Linked DNA regions of Homo sapiens. The protein of the gene in region 3 purifies or fractionates together with the protein of the main gene of each other region. This does not show direct contact. Each region holds a gene or a part of one and is shown on either strand. Other genes may lie near its edges.

Region 1 (7,027 bases), on a different chromosome or scaffold from region 3:
TCTAGACAGCTATAATAAGCCATGCCATAGTGGTTAATGAAAATTACTACAGAATAGCATTTCCCAACCAGGGGTGATTTTATACCTCACCCCCCAAAAGGGGTATTCAGCAATGTCTGGAGACATTTTTGGTTGTCACAAAGGAGATAGGGAGTGCTAGCGGCATTTAGTAGACAAAGGCCAGGGATGCTGCTACACATCCTACAATGGACGGCACAGCCCACAGCAAAGGATTATCCAAAATGTCACCAATGCAAGGCTGAGAAACCCTGCCACAGACATACTACAAGAATGAAAATTATTATTATTACTATTTTTTAAGACAGAGTCTCTGTCTGTCACCCAGGCTGGAGTGCAGTGGCACAATCTTGGTTCACTGCAACCTCCGCCTTCCAGGTTCAAGTGATTCTCCTGCCTCAGCCTCCTGAGTAGCTGGGATTACAGGTGCCTGCCACCACACCTGGCTAATTTTTGTATTTTTAGTAGAGACAGGGTTTCACTATGTTAGCAAGGCTGGTCTTGAACTCCTGACCTCAGGTGCTCTGCCTGCCTCAGCCTCCCAAAATGATGGGATTACAGGCGTGAGCCACCATGCCCGGCGAGAATGAAAATTATTAATAATTGAACAAAGAGGTGAACAGATACGTAATAAAGCAAATATAGCAAAATGTTAACAACCGTATAAACTATGTGATGGGTATATCATGTTCACTGTATAATTTACTTTTCTATGTTAAAAAATTTTCACAATAAAATGTTGAGAGCCAGGCATAGTGGCTCGTGCCTATAATCCCAGCAATTTGGGAAGCTGAGGTGGGAGGACTGCTTGAGCCCAGGAGTTCAACACCAGCCTGGGCAACAGTGAAACTTCATCTCTACAATAAACACAACATAAAATTAGCTGGACGCAATGGCACACGCCTGTACTCCCAGCTACCCACAAGGCTCAGGCAGGAGTATTACTTGAGCCCAGGAGGTAGAGGCTGCAGTGGGCCATGACTGCGCCACTGCACTTCGGCCTAGGAGACACAGCAAGACCCTGTCTCTAAAAAAAAATAAAAACAATCTTCAGTTACCCTCTGAACAAGATAAGTTTGAACTGTGCCCCAAAAATAGGTATTTTGTGTTTGAACTCAAAAAATAAAAAACGTTGGAAAAAAAATGAAGTCCTAATTATATATCCTAATTATATGTTTAGCAAACAAATTTGCAATATAGATAAGCCTAAATTCTTATGGTACTAAAATAATAAAACTGATATAACTTGAGGAACCATCAAGATACTCACTAACACGTTCATGTAGAAGCAAGTAAGGATATTTCAGTATTTCAAGAAGAGGAACTCGAAGCTTATTTTCAAAGTCTTGCCCAGTGATGTCAAACAGTGGCATCTCTCCATTATTGTCTACTATATATAACTCATCATCATCTCCAATTTCTGCCTTCATGGATTTTTCAAAGTGATTTATGAGACGTAAGGTTTCTAATTCCCATAAAACCTAGAGGAAAATAAAATGGGCAGTGTGCGTTATGTCTTATCATCAACAAAATACACTGAATGTGACGACCTAGAAAGCCTTTTCCTAAGTACAAAAATTCTGAAATGTAAAGTATTAGAGCTTGTATTTTAGATTTAAAGAAAACTATTCAAATGTGGCCACTTTTATGAAAAGTGAGTACACAGAGTATGAGATATTGGCTAGGCACAGTGGCTCACAGCTGTAATCCCAGCATTTTGGAAGGCTGAGGTAGGAGGACTGTTTCAGGTCAGGAGTTCGAGACCAGCCTGGGTAGCAAAGCAAGACCCTGTCACTAAAAAAAAAAAAAATAGAAAAATTAGCTAGGTGTGGTGCATGCCTACAGTCCTAGCTTCTCTGGAGGCTGAAGCAAAAGGATCACTTGAGCCCAAGAATCTGAAGCTACAGTGAGCTATGATTGTGCCACTGTACTCCAGTCTGGATGACATAGGGAAACCCTGCCTCTAAGAGAAAAAGAAAACAGGCCAGGCACACTGGCTCCTGCCTGTAATCCCAGCACTTTGAGAGGCTGAGGTGGGCGGATCACCTGAGGTCGGGAGTTCAGAACCACCCTGACCAACACGGAGGAACCTCGTCTCTACTAAAAATACAAAAATAGCCAGGCGTAGTGGTGCATGCCTGTAATCCCATATTCGGGAGGCTGAAGCAGGAGAATCGCTTGAACCCAGGAGGCGGAGGTTGCAGTGAGCCAAGATCACGCCACTGCACTCCAGCCTGGGCAACAACAGGGAAACTCCATCTCAAACAAAAAACCAAACAAACGAAAAAAAACAAGAAAACAAAAAATAGTATGCTATGTTTAAACACTTTTTATTTTTTTTTGAGACAGAATCTCGCTGTCGCCCAGGCTGGAGTGCAATGGCGTGGTCTCAGCTCACCGCAACCTTGGCCTCCCAGGTTCAAGCGATTCTCCTGCCTCAGCCTCCTGAGTAGCTGGGATTACAGGCGCCCACCACCACGCCTGGCTAATTTTTGTATTTTAGTAGAGACGGACTTTCACCATGATGGCCAGGCTGGTCTCAAACTGCTGACCTCGTAATCCACCTGCCTCAGCATCCCAAAGTGCTGGGATTACAGGTGTAAGCTACAGCACTCAGCCTTAAACACTTCTCTTGTAGAAGTTTTCTATAAATATCTCAACATCCCTATCAACTACATTCAAAAAAAAAAAAAAGAGAAGCTGGAGCCTCTCTGTCAAATGCAAAACCGAGGCCCTTCTATGTCTTCCCTTCTATGTTCTAGCCATAGCTAACTACCTTAGTGCAGCTTGTGGTATAAAAGACGCTGGATAGCTTCATAATTAGAAAACTTTATAAAGTGCACGTTTCTCAACACAAGTCCATTACTAATCATCCTCTCCTCTATATACTGTATATATCTCTATGGTCTACGTTCTGTTTTTCATCAATAAATAAACCAAATATTCAAAGCCAAATATTTAGAATTATATCTTTCACTTTTGTTATCATGACTGGAAAATATGCTTGCCCTTAAAGGTTTATGCCATTTGCCCATTAAAAAAAGAAAAAAAGAAGTTATTATTACCAATTAAAAAAAAAAAACCCTGGCCAGGCGCAGTGGCTCACAGCTGTAATCCCAGCACTTTGGGAGGCCGAGGTGGGCAGATCACCTGACGTCAGGAGTTTTGAGACCAGCTGGGCCAACATGGTAAAACCCCATCTCTACTAAAAATAAAAAATTAGCCGGGTGTGGTGGCACGTGCCTTTAGTCCCAGCTACTTGGGAGGCTGAGGCAGGAGAATCGCTTGAACCCACCTGGGAGGCAGAGGTTGAAGTGAGCCAAGATCACGCCACTGCACTCCAGCCTGGACAAGAGAGTGAGACTCTGTCTCAAAAAAAAAACAAAACAAAAAAAAAACAACCCACTAACAAAAACCCAGGCCATTCAGATACTCAGATACATGCATGTATTATAGCACTGACCAAAAAATTATGAAACAAATCCCCTCCCAATGACTTTATTTCATTAAATTATTTTATACCAATGTGACTAAAAGCAACAGATCATAAAATTCTGATCCAGGTTTCAATTCCATCCGTGATAAACATTTACTCAGCACCTAGTATATACCAGGCAATGAGTTAGGTACTTGACTTATATTAGCCTTCAAAGTCGGCCAGGCATGGTGGCTCATGCCTGTAATTCCAACACTGGGGGGCCAAACCGGAAGGATCACTTGAGCTCAGGAGTTCAGGACCAGCCTGGGCAAAATAATAAGACCTCGTCTCTACAAAAAAATTTTAAAAATTAGCAGAGCATGGTGGCACATGCCTGTAGTCCCAGCTACTCAGGAGGATGAGGTGGGAGGATGGCTTGAGTCCAGAAGGTTGAGGCTGCAGTGAACCGTGATCGCACCACTGCACTTCCAGCCTGGGCAACAGAGCAAAGACCTTGTCTCCAAAACATAGCAAAACAAACTATGAAAACCCATGTGGCCCATGGAAAATCATGAGACAGCACTTCCACTTTCAGGAATTTGTCCTAAGAATATACTCGAATGTGTAAAATGATATATGTATAATCACTCCACTGCACTCCAGCCTGAGTGACAGAGTGAGACTCCATCTCTAACAACAACAAAAACAAAACAAAAACAAAAAAAAAAACCCACAAAGTTGAAATCGTATCATCATTTCTCTGAATACTTCCAACGGAGTTCAAACTTACTCTCTTCCCAGCTATCAAGCTCTGAAAAATATTGCCCATCTAATATATTTTACCTCATGCAAGAATGGCAATTCATCTCTTGCTTTGTGGTACTCAGCCACACACTCCAAGCAGTAGCAGAGGTCTTCGTCGGCTGTTTGAAATTCACCGGACGGAGTGTTGGAAGCATAGCGCTTTAGGAAGTCAATGGTGGAAGCACCACCTGGCGTACACCAACAACATGTGCTCATTCTGTACCTACAGCCAGAAAAGATGACATCAAGAAGAAAACCAACTTCAGACCTACTGTGTGTCAAGAATAGGTACACTTTCAACTTGTGACCCTGGTTTCAATTTAAAATGTGTCACTAAAACCCAAATCTTCTGCTGGCTGGCTTATCAATCACTGATTCACTAAACTAAAAAAATCCTTCTATTTTTGACATACGAAAAATACAGAAAAATAAAAGCATTGTATAAGGAATAAGTATCATAAGGCAACATAAAGTTGTGCTACAGAGAAGGCTCAAAACAACACAGTACCGATAGAAAATATATAGAGACCCAGACTTACCAATATTTTCAAAGTACAGATTTTGGAATGGGGAAAAAAGTTACCAACTACAAACTTAAGTTCATTTCATAAACTGAATGGACCTAGCTCAGCATTCTCATCAGGAGTGATGTCACCCTCAAAGAGATCTAAAACTAGTTAGTGGGACGTGAAAAAGCCCTCCTCTTTTTAGATATAAAGCTCAGATAAACATACAGTACATAAAGAGAGACACAATATATTGGTGGTAATAAAATTCACAGGAGAGGCAGTTTTTAAAAATGTTTAAAAACTCTCCACTCAGGGAGAAAGGTTAGAAGGAGGTTAAAAAACCTAAGTAAGCTGGGAACGGTGGCTCATGCCTGTAAGCCCAGCACTTTGGGAGGCCGACGTGGGCAGACTGCTTGAGGTCCGCAGTTCGAGACCAGCCTGGCCAACATGGTGAAACCCCATCTCTACTAAAAAGAATACAAAAATTAGCTGGTGGTGCGCATCTGCAATCCTAGCTGCTTGGGAGGCTGAGGCAGGAGTACTGCCTGAACGTGGGAGGCAGAGGTTGCAGTGAGCCAAGATTGCGCCACTGCACTCCAGCCTGGGTGACAGAGTGAAACTCTGTCTCAAAACAAACAAACAAAAGAAACCTAAGTGAAGACACTGAGTATGTGGGAATGGAAACATGGCAGTGTGAGATTTTTGAGTATCACCGTCACCCTAAAATTCAGAATACATAATCTTTACCAACAGGAAATATAAAACATCTCAACAGAAACTAGGCTTGGCTGCTGAGGCTTCTGTGGCATAAAGCTAGTTCCTAAAATAAAGTGATTTTTTAAAATTCTTTAATTTCTTCTTATACCCACAATTAAATAATTATTTAGAAATGCATAAGCATAATCAAATACATTGTCATATGAATTGATTTTTTAAAATTTATTAAATATTACTTTTACTTATGCTTTTGAAGAGGTATACTTTCTTCATGGTTCTAAAAAGAATTTAGGGTAGCTTTCAACATTAAAGTACATACACACAAAAGGACATTTAAAAATGAGATTTCAAAAAACAAAATCAAAACTTCTTTAGAAGAAATTTAATTTCACTAAGTTCTACATGAGGAGCTTCCTGAAAGCAGAGAAAAAGGATAACATGAGTTACACAGTTCTCATCGACGTGGGGGGGAAAAAGAGTATGCAGTGATAGCCGCAGAGTACCGCCCTTTCCTGACACAAACTCTAACTCAATTACATTTTATTAATGCCTTCTAGTACAAGGGCACTGCAGACTAGGAAATGCCAAGTAACATGGGATAAGGTCTTCAATGTATTTCTGCAGAATTTAAAATTATTTTATTCAAAAGAAGAATTACTTATACCTAAGAGGCCAACATCACACTACTAGTAAGTTAACAGCTTGCAGAAGCTGTTTTTTTTTCCGGTAACCTAGTTTAATATGGAAAGTGAACTTAGAAGACGTAAGAACAGAAAGTGAAACTTCATGGAGGTTTCTCAAACATTTGAAGCATGATTTCAGCAGCTAACAGACTGCAGCCAATTTAAGCTTTAAAAAACTTAAGTGAGACTACCATGCAAATAAAATGTTGCATACTTCTTTTCCCACTTACCTTACTTGAAGCTCCAAATGTTGTGTACTTTAAAATAAGTACTAACAAAGGAGACAACAAAAGAAACCTTCTATTAAGAAAATTACAGAATTTGCTTTTTATTTCACTTAGAAAACTAGCCTATTTCCACAACCAAAAAAGCAAGACTAAATTTTCTCAAAATATATAGGAGTTACTACCAAAATAGGTGAGTGTCATGGCCGCTAGAAGATAACGGAGAATACTGCTGCAGAGCACACCAACAAGAGAACATGTGCTTCCATGGTTCTTCTTCAAAAGGCTGTGTGTGTGGTTTTGTCTTCAAATTTAAAATCATCACTGGCCTAATGGCTAAGCCCAGGAAACCTCAATAGGGCATATTTTGTCTTTAAGGAGAAAATTATTGCTTCTAAACTACTGTGAATCCTCTTAAGCTTTTATACAACTCAGTTCTTCTTGAGGTCTATTTTGTTAGTTTCATCAGACTGTAACGGCTTGCAATCATTAGTGAATGACAAATGGGTGTGTCCAGACAATACTCAAGTTGCAAAACCAAAATTAAAGCAACTCTCTGAGCACCCACCAAAAAGAGAGCTAATGTGTCAAAACCAAAAATATAGGATGCTTCACCATAGGTATTACTGTAATTTTCTACAGACTTATCCTTAG
Region 2 (7,027 bases), on a different chromosome or scaffold from region 3:
GAGTTAGATTCCTTAAAAAAAAAAAAAAACCTTGTATTATACCCTCATTTAAAACAAAGCCATTTTGGAATCTCAACTGCTTTTGTGTAAAAATTAAAAAAAAAAATTGAATGGTATATATGAGGCCATTTGCCATCCAACTCTGGCCTCCTTATGTAGCCTCAGTTCTCATCATTTCTTATGTCCATAGCCCCTTCATCCCCACCTTTCATCCTTTGCCTCCCCTTGAACATTTCATTCTTACACTCACCTAGATGTTTCAGGTCTTTTTGCCAATACATGCCTTTACATGTGGCGTTTCATCTTCCGTCAGGCTTCTACCATCCGTCATCTGTAAACTCCTGCTTCATCCTTTAAGATCCAGTCGGGTCTTGACACCATTATGTTTTGGAAAATCAACTGATTTAATTCTGCGCGCCCCCTCCCCCCACCACCTCGTATTTATGTGTGTTTGCCATTGTGTTAGGGCCTGCAGCTTCAGAGGTGAGTAAGGCCCAATCCCTCCTAAGAGTTATTTAGGCTTTTTGTCTCTTTGCTGTTATAGCAATTTGCTTAGATCCCCTTAATAGCACCTGAAATATGTATTTTAGTGTTTCTGTTTAGATAACTTTTTCCTGGTTAACTTAAAAATCTTTGAAAGCATGTATCAAAATTGTATGACATGTGCTTGTAATGTTAAATGTTTTTGTTGAATGGAAAAAATATATATGGGCATAATGAAGGAATATAATTTCCTCATAGAGGGAAAAAAAAGGTTTGAGGAGGTTACGAGTAGTTTCATAAAACTCTATTTTTACATTCACTAAAATTTTATTACCTCTCTTTCAGTTAGCTTTCCCTCATTCCCCCCAAGTTGGGTTTTGTGTTTTTACATGTTTTTGTATGCTTTCATAGATAGTGTCCTAACCTCTTTTTTTTTTTTCCCTCAAAGACAGGGTCTCACTCTGTCACCCAGGCTGGAGTACAGTGGCACAGTGGCAGGATCACCACTCATTTCAGCCTCAAACTCCTGGGTTTAAGCAAGCCTCCTGCCTCAGCCACTGCAGTAGCTGGGACCATAAGCATGTGCCACCATACCCAGCTAATTTTTTAATTTTTTTGTAGAGACAGGGTCTCACTGTGTTACCCAGACTGGCCTGACCTCTATTATTTGTTGTCCTGTTTTGTCATCATCTCTCTACTTACTTTTTCTTTCCAACCAATAGTAACCTTTACAAAAGCAAAGATTGTCTTATTTATATTAATCATTATATTCTTAGAATAAAAGTCACTGGTTAATATTTATTAAATCTTTATTTGCTTAAAAGAATATTTTCAGTACCTTTCCTGAAATTTTAAGTCAACTCATTAACTTTGTGTTGTTTATGATAGATTGCAAACTTCCCGCCATTTGTTCTGGTCCTCTCTGCAAATGTCCTACCTTTTGTTCTGGTCCTCTCTGCAAATGTTTGGCAAATCTTCCAACCTTCACTAACTCCTCTACCTTACTGGTTACATTGAAGACATACACTAACTTAGATTCTTGACATTTTGGGAAAAGCTTTGGGCAATTTCTGTTTCATCCAGCCAACATAGCCCAGTAAGCATTTCCCAGTCTCCCACCCCAGGACCCAGGATTTAATACCGAAGCTCTTACCGATACTAACTGCCCATGCTTTCAGTCCCTCTTTCCCATGTGAAGCCTCCCCCTTCTCAGAGATGAGTGATATAGTTCCATTGTTAGCAGTTCAGCTTCCTCCTTTCCTTTACTTCTCCCAAAACACCATGGCAAATCCTCAGGGGGTTTGCCTTTTTAAAACCCTCCTCTGACCCTACATTTCTGTTTTTGTCTTTTTATGTCTAGTGAAGTGGTTTTCTTTATCTAATATTAAAGTAAGAAATTCATGGATAGGATAATTGCATGTATAATAATTTGTAATGAAAATTTGTGTGTGTAGGAGAGAGATCCTTGTAAGTAAAGCATGTGGAAATAGGTGACAAATAAGCCATTAAATCCCATTAGGCTTTTTTCCTTTGCTAATATATTGATAATGAGGTTTCTAATGAGAGATCTATCTGACTTGTTAGTGCTCTCTTGTTATTCTTGATCTCAAGTCACTCAGGTTTGCTTATTGAGGTGAAGATAGGTGATTTGGGTTCTTAGTGCTACTGTATATCTTTCAAATTTCATATTGGAATACATTTTAAAATAGGTGATTTTCTTATATGATTAGTACATGACCTAGCTAGTTTTAATTTTATAAAGTAGTATCAACTTAATTTTGTTTCCATTTTTATTTTGGTAGATTTTCTTACATTTTTCTCTTTTTTAATTATATTTTTGAGACATATAGCCTATCTCTTCAGAATCAGTATCTGATTTAAGTTTTATAGTTGTATCAGGGTTTGGTATGATTCCCACAGTGATTTTTTTTAATTATGACTTTGAGTTTTCTGAGTATTAGAATTCTTATTTGTTACTATTATAGGACAGTTCCCAAGAAGTAAACATCCAACTTGAGAATTACCATACATGAAAATAACAGCTGTGCCTGGGAGGCCTTTATGACCCCTTCAGCTATCAGGCCCTCAGTTGTTCCATGGCAACAAGATTGAAATGAGATTTGGGGTCCACCAACCACCCATTTGCTTTGTCCGGTAAAGGAAAAAAAAATGTGTGCTTTTGTTTTCTCCACATCGAGAATTTCCCTCTCCTTCTTCAGGGTATACCTTAATTACAGAGCTTGGAGGTTATTGCAGAGGAAATACTTGTGTTGGGGTGAGGGGCATGTTGGTCAGAAAGACCCAGAGCAGTGGACATTAAGCTTTGTCGTAAAGAGTGTGAATTCTCCAGGTGGAATTGGAGTCTGAAGACTGTGCTCTTCCACTTTACTGACAGTTTCTACGGTTTTTATGTTTCTGTTTCTTTCTTGAGGATGGAGTTTTTTTGTTTTTTTGTTTTTTTGTTTTTCGTTTTTTGTTTTTTTTTCAGTCGTTGTGTCTCTGTTTTCTGGCTGATTCCTGCTGGTAACTCAGTACATATTCCTGAATGCAACAAATTCCCTTTGGAAAGCCAGCCAAGAAAGAGCCCAGAAATTATTTTCCCACAAAAATGTGTAAAAATATATATTGTTACTTGTAGCAATCATGTTATGGCTCAAATGAAAATTTGTGGACTGGCAAGAAATCAAACCTTTGAAAATCAGTCTTAGTGCTAAGTAACTTGTGTCTTGTAATTCAGTAATGAAGTATTCATTGAATGCCTGACAGGCACTGCTAGGTAGTGGGTATATGTATGTTCGTGAATAAAGTAGACATGGCTCTTGCCTTCATGGAGCTTTCTATTCTAATAGGGGGAACAGATGAAGATCACCTACTTGTATCATTAGAAATAGAATTATGTTCTGTGAAGGAAATGAGGTACAGTGAGAAAAAATAATCCAGTTTAGGATGGCAGCTACCTAAAGGAGGTCATCGAGGAGGCCTTTCTGCAGGAGGGACTTTAATAGAAAACTGAGAGAAGATAGAATCCTGTGGAACAACTGAAGAGATAAAGAATTCTAGGCAGAAGGAACCTGTTTAAAAAGTCATGAGGCAGGAAAAAGTTTGGCATGTTTCAGGAATTGAAAGGAGGTTGGCGTGGTTAGACTCCTGAGTAACGGGGTGGCAGGGGTCAGATGGTGCGAGGCTTTTTATGCGAGTATTCTGAGTGCTCCATGAATACATTGATGGGCTTAAAGGAGAGGACTGATAAAATACAGCTTGTTTTAATACAGGTTGAGTATCGCAAATTCGAAAGTCTCCAATGAACATGTCCTTTGAACTTCATGTCCATGATTTTGGAGCATTTGGAATTTTCAGGTTAGGGTCACTCAGCCTGTATTACTTTTGATGGGGCCAAGAGTGGAAACTGAGGGACCACTTAGGTAATTCACCTCATGGAGGCAAGAGATGGTGGTGGTTTGGAAAGTTAGGATAGTGGTAGTGAAAATGCAATGGATTTGAGCTCTCTTCTAGACAAAGAATTAACAGGATTTCCTGTTAGCTTCGCTGTGAGGAGTCAACTGAAGTAAAGAATCAGAGGAGGATTGTTAAGTTTCCAGTGTGAACAGCTGGGCGTGGGGATTCCTGGGATGGCAAAGCCTGGAGAAAATCAGGTGGTGGGGGGCATGTTAAGCTTGAACTTTGTTGCGTTTGAGGTGCTAGTGTGGCATCCAATAATGGTGCCATTAAATGGTACCATTACTACTAAACATTTTTTCCCCCTAAAGCTCTAAACTTGTCCAGCCCACAGCTCACCATCTTTAGATCTTTTCTCAAATGTTACCATCTCAGCAAGGCCTTCCTTGACCAGCCAAACTTATGTTGAAAACCCCACACTGACCATCTCCCTTCCCTGCTTAATTTTTCTCCATAGTTAATTTTCACCATCTGACATGTTCTTTTTTTTCCCTAATACCCAGTGTGATAGCACATCTGACATGTTCTTTATTTTACTTTGTTATTAACTGAACTGCTTTCTCGCTATAAGATCGTCAGGGATTTTTGCGTATGGATCACTGCCATATCCCCAGCACCTAAAATAGGGTGTGGTCTATAGTAAATGCTCAGTAAATATTTGTTTATTGAATATATGAAACGACTTGAAGGATTCTGTAGTGTTTCCACGATTAAATTTTCTTACTAGTATTTGTTCAGGCTTTTGGCTTAAAACAGTTCAGTTCTCTTTTTTAAGTGAATGTAGATTTTGTATATACACACACATATATATGTGGATTTGCATTGTTTAGGAATAAAAACCTAAAATCTACCATTCATATTTTAATTTTCTTAATTTTCAGGTTACAACTGATGGAAAACCAAAAATCGTTGATATCATTGATACAACAGGAAGTGGCGATGTGAATACTGCTACAGAAGTAGAGCCAAAGGATGGTGAGATTGTTGGCCTTTCAGGAAGAGTGCTTAAGGTGAGACCTTTTGTCTTCTTTTTGAATTTTTTTTTTTTTACTCTTGCCTCAAAGCATCTAATGTTTTTACCTTACATTTGGTGGTGGTATTAGTTATCCATTGCCACATATCAGATTACCTCAGAACATCCTGGTTTAAAATGACAAATATTTATTACCTCGGAGTTTCTGTGAGTCAGGAATCTGGGTGTGGCTTAACGGGGTTCCAGTCGCCCTGGAGGTTGCAAATGGTTAGCCATGGCTGTGACTTCAGCTGAAGGCTCAGCTTGGGAGAAGAAGGGGAAGTTTGTTTCCAAGCCTACTGGTGGGTCACTGGCAGGCCTTGGCTCCTTGCCATTGGGCCTCTCCGCAGTGCTGCAGTACCTGGCAGCACCTTCCCTGGGGGAGTGAGCCGAGAGAGTCCCCACGATGAAAGCCACAGGCTTTTTATAAAAGTGACCTTCTAAGGGACCACCTATCACTTGACTATATTGAGCTCATTGGAAGTGAGTTAATAAATCTAGCACACACTTAAGGGGAAGGGATTTCACAAGAAATGAATCATTGGAGCTGTCTTAGAAGAAGCCATTATTTTGTTGTTTGATGAGGTAATTAGAATTGGGCGGTATTTTTCAGTGAGCTTGCCAAATTTTATGTTTTGAATACAAAGATAGAGAAAGTAACCACATCATAGCTTTGCCTTCATGTTTTACTGTCCCTTCATAGTATTCCCAGTTAACTTGACCATGAAGAAATACTTAGGCTATAGTAGCTGTTAACTTAAATGGCCAGCTTTGTCTTTTTTTTTTTTTTAAACTTCTTTTTTTCTTTTTTTTTTCGAGACATAGAGTCTTGCTCCGTTGCTCAGGCTAGAGTGCAGTGGTGCAATCTTGGCTCACTGCAACCTCCGCCTCCCGGGTTCTAGCAATTCTCCTGCCTCAGCCTCCCAATTAGCTGGGATTACAGGTGCCCGCCACCACGTCCAGCTAATTTTTGTATGATTAGTAGAGACAGGGTTTCACCATTTTGGCTAGGCTGGTCTCGAACTCTTGACCTTGTGATCCGCCTGTCTCAGCCTCCCAAAGTGCTGGGATTATAGGCGTGAGCCAGGGCACTCGGCCTACCAGCTTTGTCTTATTCTATGTCCTTGGTAGAAAGGCCTGGGTAAGCTAAACGTAAAAAATAATTATAAAGCAAGCACAGAGGAGCTCATGAGCTAAGGAGCATGAAGGATGGATGGCAAGAATTTGTGATCCTGTACTCTTAAGCAGCATTAGTTTGGAACATAAAATTATGGTTATTTAGTTAGCTTTTCCCACCTTTTGCCATCTATCTGAATTGTTCTTAGGTCTTGTCTTTTAAGTAAGCTTGTTGTGGCAGCATATTGGCTTTCTGTGCCGTGTAATAAAGCACCACAGACTTAGCCGCCTAAAACCTTGTGTATTCCTGTATTTATTATATCACTGATTCCATGGGGTAGGAGTCCAGGCATGGCTTTTTGTGGGTCTCTGCTCAGGGTCTCACAAGACTGCAGTCAAGATTAAAGGCTCAGCTGAGGCTCAGGCTTCTTTTCCAAGTTTACATGATTGTTGGAAAAATTCATTTCATTGCAGCTGTAAAACTCATGATAGCTTGCTTCTTCAAGGCCAGTAAGAGAATCTCTGACCTTGGTGATGACCCCAGTCTTTCTTTTAAAGAACTCACCTGATTAGTTCAGGCCCGCTGAGAATCATGTCACTTTTGATTTGCTCAGAGTCCTTAATTGCGTCTGCAAAATCCCTACACCTTCTTTACGTACCATAACGCAATCATGGGAGTGACATCTCATTATATTCACGGGTCCTGCCTTCACTTAGGGGAGGGACGTGGGTCTTCTTAGAAATCTGCCTGTCATGGGCAGATAGCAGCCATTAATAATCCAGGTTCTACTTCCTTTTCTGTGTGTTAGGAACTGATTATCTGTGTCCCCACCCCCTGCCAAAATTCATACATTGAAGCCCTATCCCTCTTTGTGTTGGTATTTGAAAGTTGGGCCTTTGGGAGGTATTTAGGGTTAGATGAGGTTATGAGTATGTGTCCCCTCAGGATAGGATTAGTAC
Region 3 (7,477 bases):
CAGAGATGCATCTATACCTTTTCTCTTTGCCTTTATTATTATTCTAGTTACATTTTATGTTTATCTTTATGTTTAGTAGTATTATCTCTACATCAAGGAAAGTCATATATTCTCCACCAGGCCTTTTTAGGAATAAAATAGATGGCAAACTCTCTGACACAATTTAACTATAAAACAACTTAAAGTCAAAAAAATAGCGACTTCTTTTCTGTGATGTATTTATGATTTGCTCATTTCCACAGGAATGACATTTCTAAATTTTGCACACAGATAAAACTGCCTAGGTTATTTTAAGACATGACTGATGTGCCAAAATTATCCCCACTTTAATACAGTATCTTGCAAATTTGCAAATTTCATTTATCATGAAACTTCTTAGAATTAAAAAACAGCTAAACTGGATCTACTGCTCTGGTATGTTGAGAAACCACTGTCCTAAAATAACATTTCAAATTTCACGTGTTGTGCCAAGGCAGGATTTTTAAAAATGATGTTTTGCTTTAATCTTAAGACATACTTGGATGATTCTGAATATAATTATTGAGTAATTAATGTGACACATTTTGACAAAGGTATGTATTCTAGAGTATGTTTTAAATTCAGACAAGCATTCTCTTAACGAATCATATCAGCATATTCAAGAGGGCAGGCATCATTTGAAAAGGAAATTGATCTGTTACACATTTTGACAGGCTTTAGAGCATTTAGCTGTGTTCTCTCAATTGAAAGGTGGTGAGAGTGGGTAAAAAAAAACGCTGTAAGGGTACAGTTTATCTTGTTTTGTTTTGATTTGATTTTAAAGTGGCAAACATCTTTCTAGTCACTTTTGCAAAGACACTCATTTTGTCAATCAGGGGCTGTCTTCACCATTGATAGAAAGGATTCCTGTGGGATTATTATTACGTTCCATACTTAGTTGTGTTTCAACTTCAATCTGTTTCACCAAAGCAAAGATACAGGTGATAGAAGATCATCGATGTTAAAGGAAATCGTCGTGACAACAAATTTTTCTTATTCACCAGCATGGTTCTCAAACACTTGGTTAGGAGCAATAAATTCTCATGTAAAGAAGGTATATAGAAAGATCAATATCTCCTTTTAAACAGTTTAACACATTTATTCCTAATGCATTACTACTCACTAACATGCTGAATACTGCTATGTAATGTTTTAAACATAACATATATTTAAGAGTACATGCTAAGATCATGAGTGGCAAAAATGATCAGTTGATATTTAGTTATAGATGATATGTATCAGATTATATGTAGCTGTATTAGGAGAAATTCCTGAAAGATGGATCTGGTTTCTTAATAATGCATAGGAGGCATCTGTGCACATCATTTTAAAGCATCTTCAATTTATGATAATTTAATCAAAAATTTTTTTATGTTTCTTGAGGAAATGTACCTTACAAACATTCCTAAGTGAAAAACAAAACAAAACAAAAAATATAAGTAGAAGACATATGCTTTTCGATATATGCAGATGTGTCTGTGTGTGCCTAAAATTATAAATATTTCACTGGAGCCTAAGTAAAGAATTTACTAATGTGTAAGACTGTAAAAATCAGATATTTATATAATGATATGAGCATTTCGTTCACTGTTATAAAGGCTTGGTAAAGTGGAAAACATATGTAAAGGAAAGGAGATCTGGTGGTTTCTAAATGACATAAATTGATTGTTTAAAAATTTTGAATAATTGCAGACAATAATGAAATGCTTATTCCTTTTAAAAATAAATTGTTAGTTATTTTATTTGGTCAATATAAATGTTCACATTACATTGAAATTTAAATTCTTTGAAATCAAAAATTATAGTAAGTAGGCATACTGCTGATAATTACAATATTAAGAATTTGAAAAAAGAATATATTAATGCATATAATTTTACTTAATATTGTAACTACATCTAAAACATAAATATATATTACTAAATTTTCAAATATTTTATCTAAATAATGTCTTTCTTACAGATATATTAATTCAACAAATGAATTAATAGAGCTAAAATATAAATTGACATAATCTAAAGAAAACCTTTGCCACTCTATTTAGGTATTTTTTGTTGCTAAATATTTTATGTTTTTATATTTAATAGATTTATTAAATCCCTTTGGTAAACTTATTTTGAAATATTTTATTATAATTAGTTATTCAATTAAAATTGCATGTACCAAATTAGAATTGAAACAATATAAAATGTCTTTTACAGTATGCATTTTCCTAATTTATACTTTTCTTAATTTATACTTTCATATTTGAGAAATTACCTTTTGTGTTATGTATAAATGTTATAATACATATAGGTAAATTAATATGCCTGTACAATTTTAGGCATATATGTGTTTTTATTCATAGCAATGCTAATATTTTAATTTTTTTGGAATTATAATATACTTAAAATTTTTCATATTTATTCTGTATATATTTTTTCTCATATACTTAATGATGACAACTCTATTGTTCATATTACCTGATATACATGGTAAATACATGATAAATAAAAAATAAAACCCTGAACAAAGAAAAAAGTGCAAAGAAAGACATGCAAAGAAAGGTTGATTCATTTATTCTAAGAAACTTGAGAAGTTTTAAATATCCTAACATAGGTGTAACTTCCCCCCAACACCAACAATCTGTATTACAGAGATGGAGAACTGTTCTCACAAATACGTGTTTTGAGAAAGTTCAGTACAAGTACACATCATGGTTTTAAAATTTTTAGAATATTTTCCTTATTTCCTATGTAAATATTTTCCTTAATATTTTTAGAATATTTTCCTAGCAACATTTTGTCATGTACTTTTTGACCTATTGACTCATTAAAGATGATGCATGTAGTTTATAATATGCCTGATTATCACAGTCTTACCTTTGTAACTTCAACTTCTAGAAGTTCTGTGAAAACTGAACAGCAAACTTCGTGTTGGACACATAAGGAAGAGTAGGAAAAACTTTCTTCTTTTTGCTTCACAGTCTTCTCAGCAAACTCTCGATGTGCCCCATTGCCCAGAGTTACAGACGCTTGTGCTTTTAGTACCACAACACTGTCAGTATGTCACTGCTTACTCAATGCTATTTTGGGTTCTCTGAGTAGAGTCATAAACACTGAGCCTTTTGTGCAAAATATCATAAGGGCACTCTGACGCTCGTTCATAGTCTGGAATTAAAATGCAGACAGCTACGCAAGTAGTATGAGCTGATTATCTTTGTTTTTTTTTTTTTTCCCCTAACAACAAGCAAAAACAAAATAAAGTACTTATTGGCCTGAGTTGATAAAGGGAGAATTCAACTTACATACAAGAATTTTGCAAGTAGAGCGGACGTGCCCTCTGTTTGGGGATTAGCTGATGAAACAAATGATCAATTTAAAGCAGACCCAAAACTTACTGAAAAGAGAAATGATTTTCCACTGTGTGTCTATGCCTCATGGCTGTTTCTTAATTCGGTCATTTCTCCTCAGAAATCAAGTAAAGACATAATGAGAGAGAAATGTCTAAACTTTAATAAGTCCTTTTCTTTTCCTTGGTTTATTATTATGTAAAATCTTTTATTTTATTCATGGTTATAATTAGATTTTGATATAAGCTATTATTATTTAACATAAAATACATATGTATTTTCTATGCTGTTTACTCAAGCTGTTATTTACTTAAAAACCATTTTTGAACCAAACTAGAGAAACATTAAAATATTAAAAGTTTCTTAAATTATACCTATATAATAAGAAAGTCTATGTGGGGCAGGATTATTCAAGCATCCTGTTAATTCTGATAGATATTTTGGTCACTATCCTCTTAGCTTTTGAGGAAAGAAATGGCAAAAGCTATATGGGCAGTAAAGTAGGACACTCAAGCACACACATATACACACATGCACATGTGCACACATGCATACACATACATGTGCACACACATACATATGCACACACACGCACAAATGCACATCCTATGAGGTTGTGAATATTAGGAGGAATCAATAATTTATGAACAAATCTTGAAGAGATGAACCTGGGAGAATAGATCTGTGGATAGCAGGAACAGTATAATGTGGAAATATTTTATTTTTTCAGGTAGAAAAAAGCATTCAGCTAGAAAAAAACACTTCTAAGTGTTTCAAGATGTTAGTAAATAGGGAAAAAATAAATTTTACAAAGAACCTCTGAAGTATTCTTATACATTTCCCCCTTCATATTTTTTACAGTATCAAAAAAGGTGGAGATACCTGTTTAAAATATTTATTTACATAATTCACTGTTCTGTCTATGACCTAGTCTAGGATTTCTGTAAGAATCTAACATTTTATGAGATGCCAATTTATATCTTGATGTTTATAAAATATCCAGTTGCACTTAGGATTGAAACCACAGTTTAGAGCCTCAGTGTACCTGTAAACATGATGTCCCAAAGGCTTATTTTAGAGCCTAAGGGAGCAAAGGTGGGTCACAATTTGCTGCCCTGATTATTACAGTACCAATAAAGAGCAATGGCAACTATAGAAACCACAGTGAGACAGGATTAAATTTTCTAAAGAAGGTACAGTGTGAAACTACATGTTTTATGTAGAATATCATTAACAGCAAACTGATTTTATTAAATAGATAATCTATTATCAAACACGTACAGGAACTAGTTGCTGTAAATTGCTTAAGAAATGCATGCCCTTTCTGGAAGAGGATATAAGATGAACAGCCGATAGCCAAGGATCCAGCAAGATTCATCCGCTATGCCACAACCAAGAATGAAGACTTGGAAGTACTTAGGGGACTGGTCATCAGATAAGCTTAGTGATTACTTCTTTTTTTTTTTTTTTTTTTTTGAGATGGAATCTCTCTCTGTCGCCCAGGCTGGAGTGCAGTGGCGCAATCTCGGCTCACTGCAAGCTCCACCTCCCGGGTTCACGCCATTCTCCTGCCTCAGCCTCCCGAGTAGCTGGGACTACAGGCGCCCGCCACCACGCCCTGCTAATTTTTTTGTATTTTTAGTAGAGACGGGGTTTCACCATGTTAGCCAGGATGGTCTCGATCTCCTGACTCGTGATCCGCCCGCCTTGGCCTCCCAAAGTGCTGGGATTACAGGCTTGAGCCACCGTACCCGGCCCAGCTTAATGATTACTTCTACGTCATTTTCTTTATAACAAGAGAAATATATCTGACTAATTTTTCATATATGGGGGGGTAATACATAGTAAATGGAACATGACTGTGTAAGAACAGAAGCTCAAAATTAAATACACTACTATCCATATGTAAGTCAGAGTTATCATACTCAGAGTTATCTGAGGTCCCCACAGCAGTAAACATGTGGCAGGATGGACAATTCCCGAAACACAAGTGATGTTTTATAGCTGCACAGTGACATTCTGGTCTATTTTCACATGCAGTCTGGGGGAATTTCACAGTTATCACCTGCCAGCAGGCTAAGGAACAGAGCTTGAAGTTGCAGAAGCCAGGATTGTATTGAGTTACTCTAAATAAAAATTTGAATTCAAGTATTATAATTCAGAGCCACCAATTTTTTAAACCAGATAATTAAGAAATATATATCTAATGACTAACCGCAGACAAGACTGGCTAATGAAGTTTGAATTTAACTGAACAGGCAGAAATGGAAAGTCAAACATTATGCAAGCTCTGATCTGTCCCTTGAAAATAGACATTTAACCAGAAAGTTTAAGTCTACCTACTTTATATCATAGGCTATACATGTGCCTTCAATTAGAAATTTAGGCCTTGTCCAATCAGGTGTTGTCAGGATAGCATAATCTAAGGACCACATCCTTCTCACATGGTCTGGAAGCATTTTAGTTCTTAAAAATATATTTAAGTTGTTTTGGGAAAAGCTTATAATATGTTAATACAAGAACATTTAAAACAGATATTTACTGTATGCTATCACTATATCAATGAGAAATCTATTGACTAGCAAGCAGATAGCAAAATCAAACAAAATCAAATCCAAAAATGAATAGAATAATGAAGAAATTCAATGTATACATAGAGAAATAAAGTAGGGTTAAGGGTTAGTTGATCCAGTGGCTTCCTACTGCAATCAGTTATCTAGGTTCTTGGGCTCTGTTTGGTTCTCCAACTTTTCCTCAAGGCCCTCAAAAACACTGTCACTTTCGTCTTATTCATCAAAATGATCACTTGTCCATGCATGAACAAAGAATGGCAACAAGAAAAGCTTAAAGTAATTGTCATTCCTGAACCTGAGAGAAAGAGTTAGTTGATAGAAAAACAGATTCATTTCCCCAAATTAGAGTGGAGTGGTTGAATCTAGTTGATAACCAACTAGACGTCCAGTGTTCACTTCAGATATTCATGTAAAATAGCTTTTAAAATGCTGAAAATAAAAATAATAATTTTCTCCATGGATTGCCATTAAATGGCATTCTTTTCCAACAGTCCAATTTGCTGTGTTTTCCATTCTGTTTTTAACATTGAATATATATCACAATGATAAATATGGGGAAATAAAAAAATGCACAATGATAGAACAAACAATAAACAAAATATTCACTAATCTATATACTTCTAACCATGCTAAAATACTTTGTATCAAAATTACACAAATTTTGCTCAGAGTAAAGAAATATTGTCTTGAATATGGCAACAATTTGTATGGTTTGAAGATTTATCTTTTAAATTCTAGTTACAGTAGCCACTTGTCTAATATAATAAAAAATTTTATTGTCATATATATGTCCTTATTTTCTTATTTTTGTATTCATTCTTTTTTCTTTTTCTTTTTATATTTAATTAATTAATTAATTCATTTATTTATTTGTTTGTTTGTTTTTTGAGACGGAGTCTTGCTCGGTCACCCTGGCTGGAGTGCAGTGGGGCGATCTCGGCTCACTGCAAGCTCCGCCTCTTGGGTTCAAGCCATTCTCCTGCCTCAGCCTCCCTAATAGCTGGGAGTACAGGCACCTGCCACCATGCCCGGCTAATTTTTTGTATTTTTAGTAGAGGCGGGGTTTCACCGTGTTAGCCAGGATGGTCTCGATCTCCTGACCTCGTGATCTGCCCGCCTCGGCCTCCCAAAGTTGTTTTGTTTTTATTTTCTTTTGTAAGAAGACTTTTCTCTGGAGCAGTATATTTAAGAAATATATATATGTATGTATATTTGCCAAGCCGCAACATAATCTCCATGACGGAAGAAATCCATTATAGTAATTAACAATGAATAAATGTATAAATAACAAAAAAGGCTCATTACAAGAATAATTTAGTAATTGTCAATATGCAAACAAACAACCCAAAATACTTAAATTCAGACATAAACGTGTAGAGGTATGTCAGCCTTGTTTTCTGTTTATATTACCAGAATTTATTAGAAACATCTCACCTAGGCACCAACCTCTTTGAAACGGTAGATTAACTTTTACTTTTTCTTTCACCAGGACAATATTAATATGAACATTTAATTTCTGGAAGAGTTTCCATGTTTTTATAAAATTTTGGTTACTTC

The links.
Region 1: the proteins of CDH19 (region 3) and SETX purify together in Homo sapiens (affinity purification with mass spectrometry; 2 studies listed by BioGRID and IntAct, with this or other methods). This does not show direct contact.
Region 2: the proteins of CDH19 (region 3) and TPP2 purify together in Homo sapiens (affinity purification with mass spectrometry; 2 studies listed by BioGRID and IntAct, with this or other methods). This does not show direct contact.

What each region holds. Positions count from the first base shown.
Region 1 is NC_000009.12:132,344,973-132,351,999, forward strand, and holds part of SETX (probable helicase senataxin), read right to left. Parts: intron 4,464-7,027; 5' UTR 4,457-4,463; coding exon 4,280-4,456; intron 1,500-4,279; coding exon 1,289-1,499; intron 1-1,288. UniProt on the Homo sapiens protein: Probable RNA/DNA helicase involved in diverse aspects of RNA metabolism and genomic integrity.
Region 2 is NC_000013.11:102,599,973-102,606,999, forward strand, and holds part of TPP2 (tripeptidyl-peptidase 2), read left to right. Parts: intron 1-4,820; coding exon 4,821-4,949; intron 4,950-7,027. UniProt on the Homo sapiens protein: Cytosolic tripeptidyl-peptidase that releases N-terminal tripeptides from polypeptides and is a component of the proteolytic cascade acting downstream of the 26S proteasome in the ubiquitin-proteasome pathway.
Region 3 is NC_000018.10:66,601,077-66,608,553, forward strand, and holds the start of CDH19 (cadherin-19 isoform 1 preproprotein), read right to left. Parts: upstream 3,015-7,477; 5' UTR 2,878-3,014; intron 1-2,877. UniProt on the Homo sapiens protein: Cadherins are calcium-dependent cell adhesion proteins. They preferentially interact with themselves in a homophilic manner in connecting cells; cadherins may thus contribute to the sorting of heterogeneous cell types.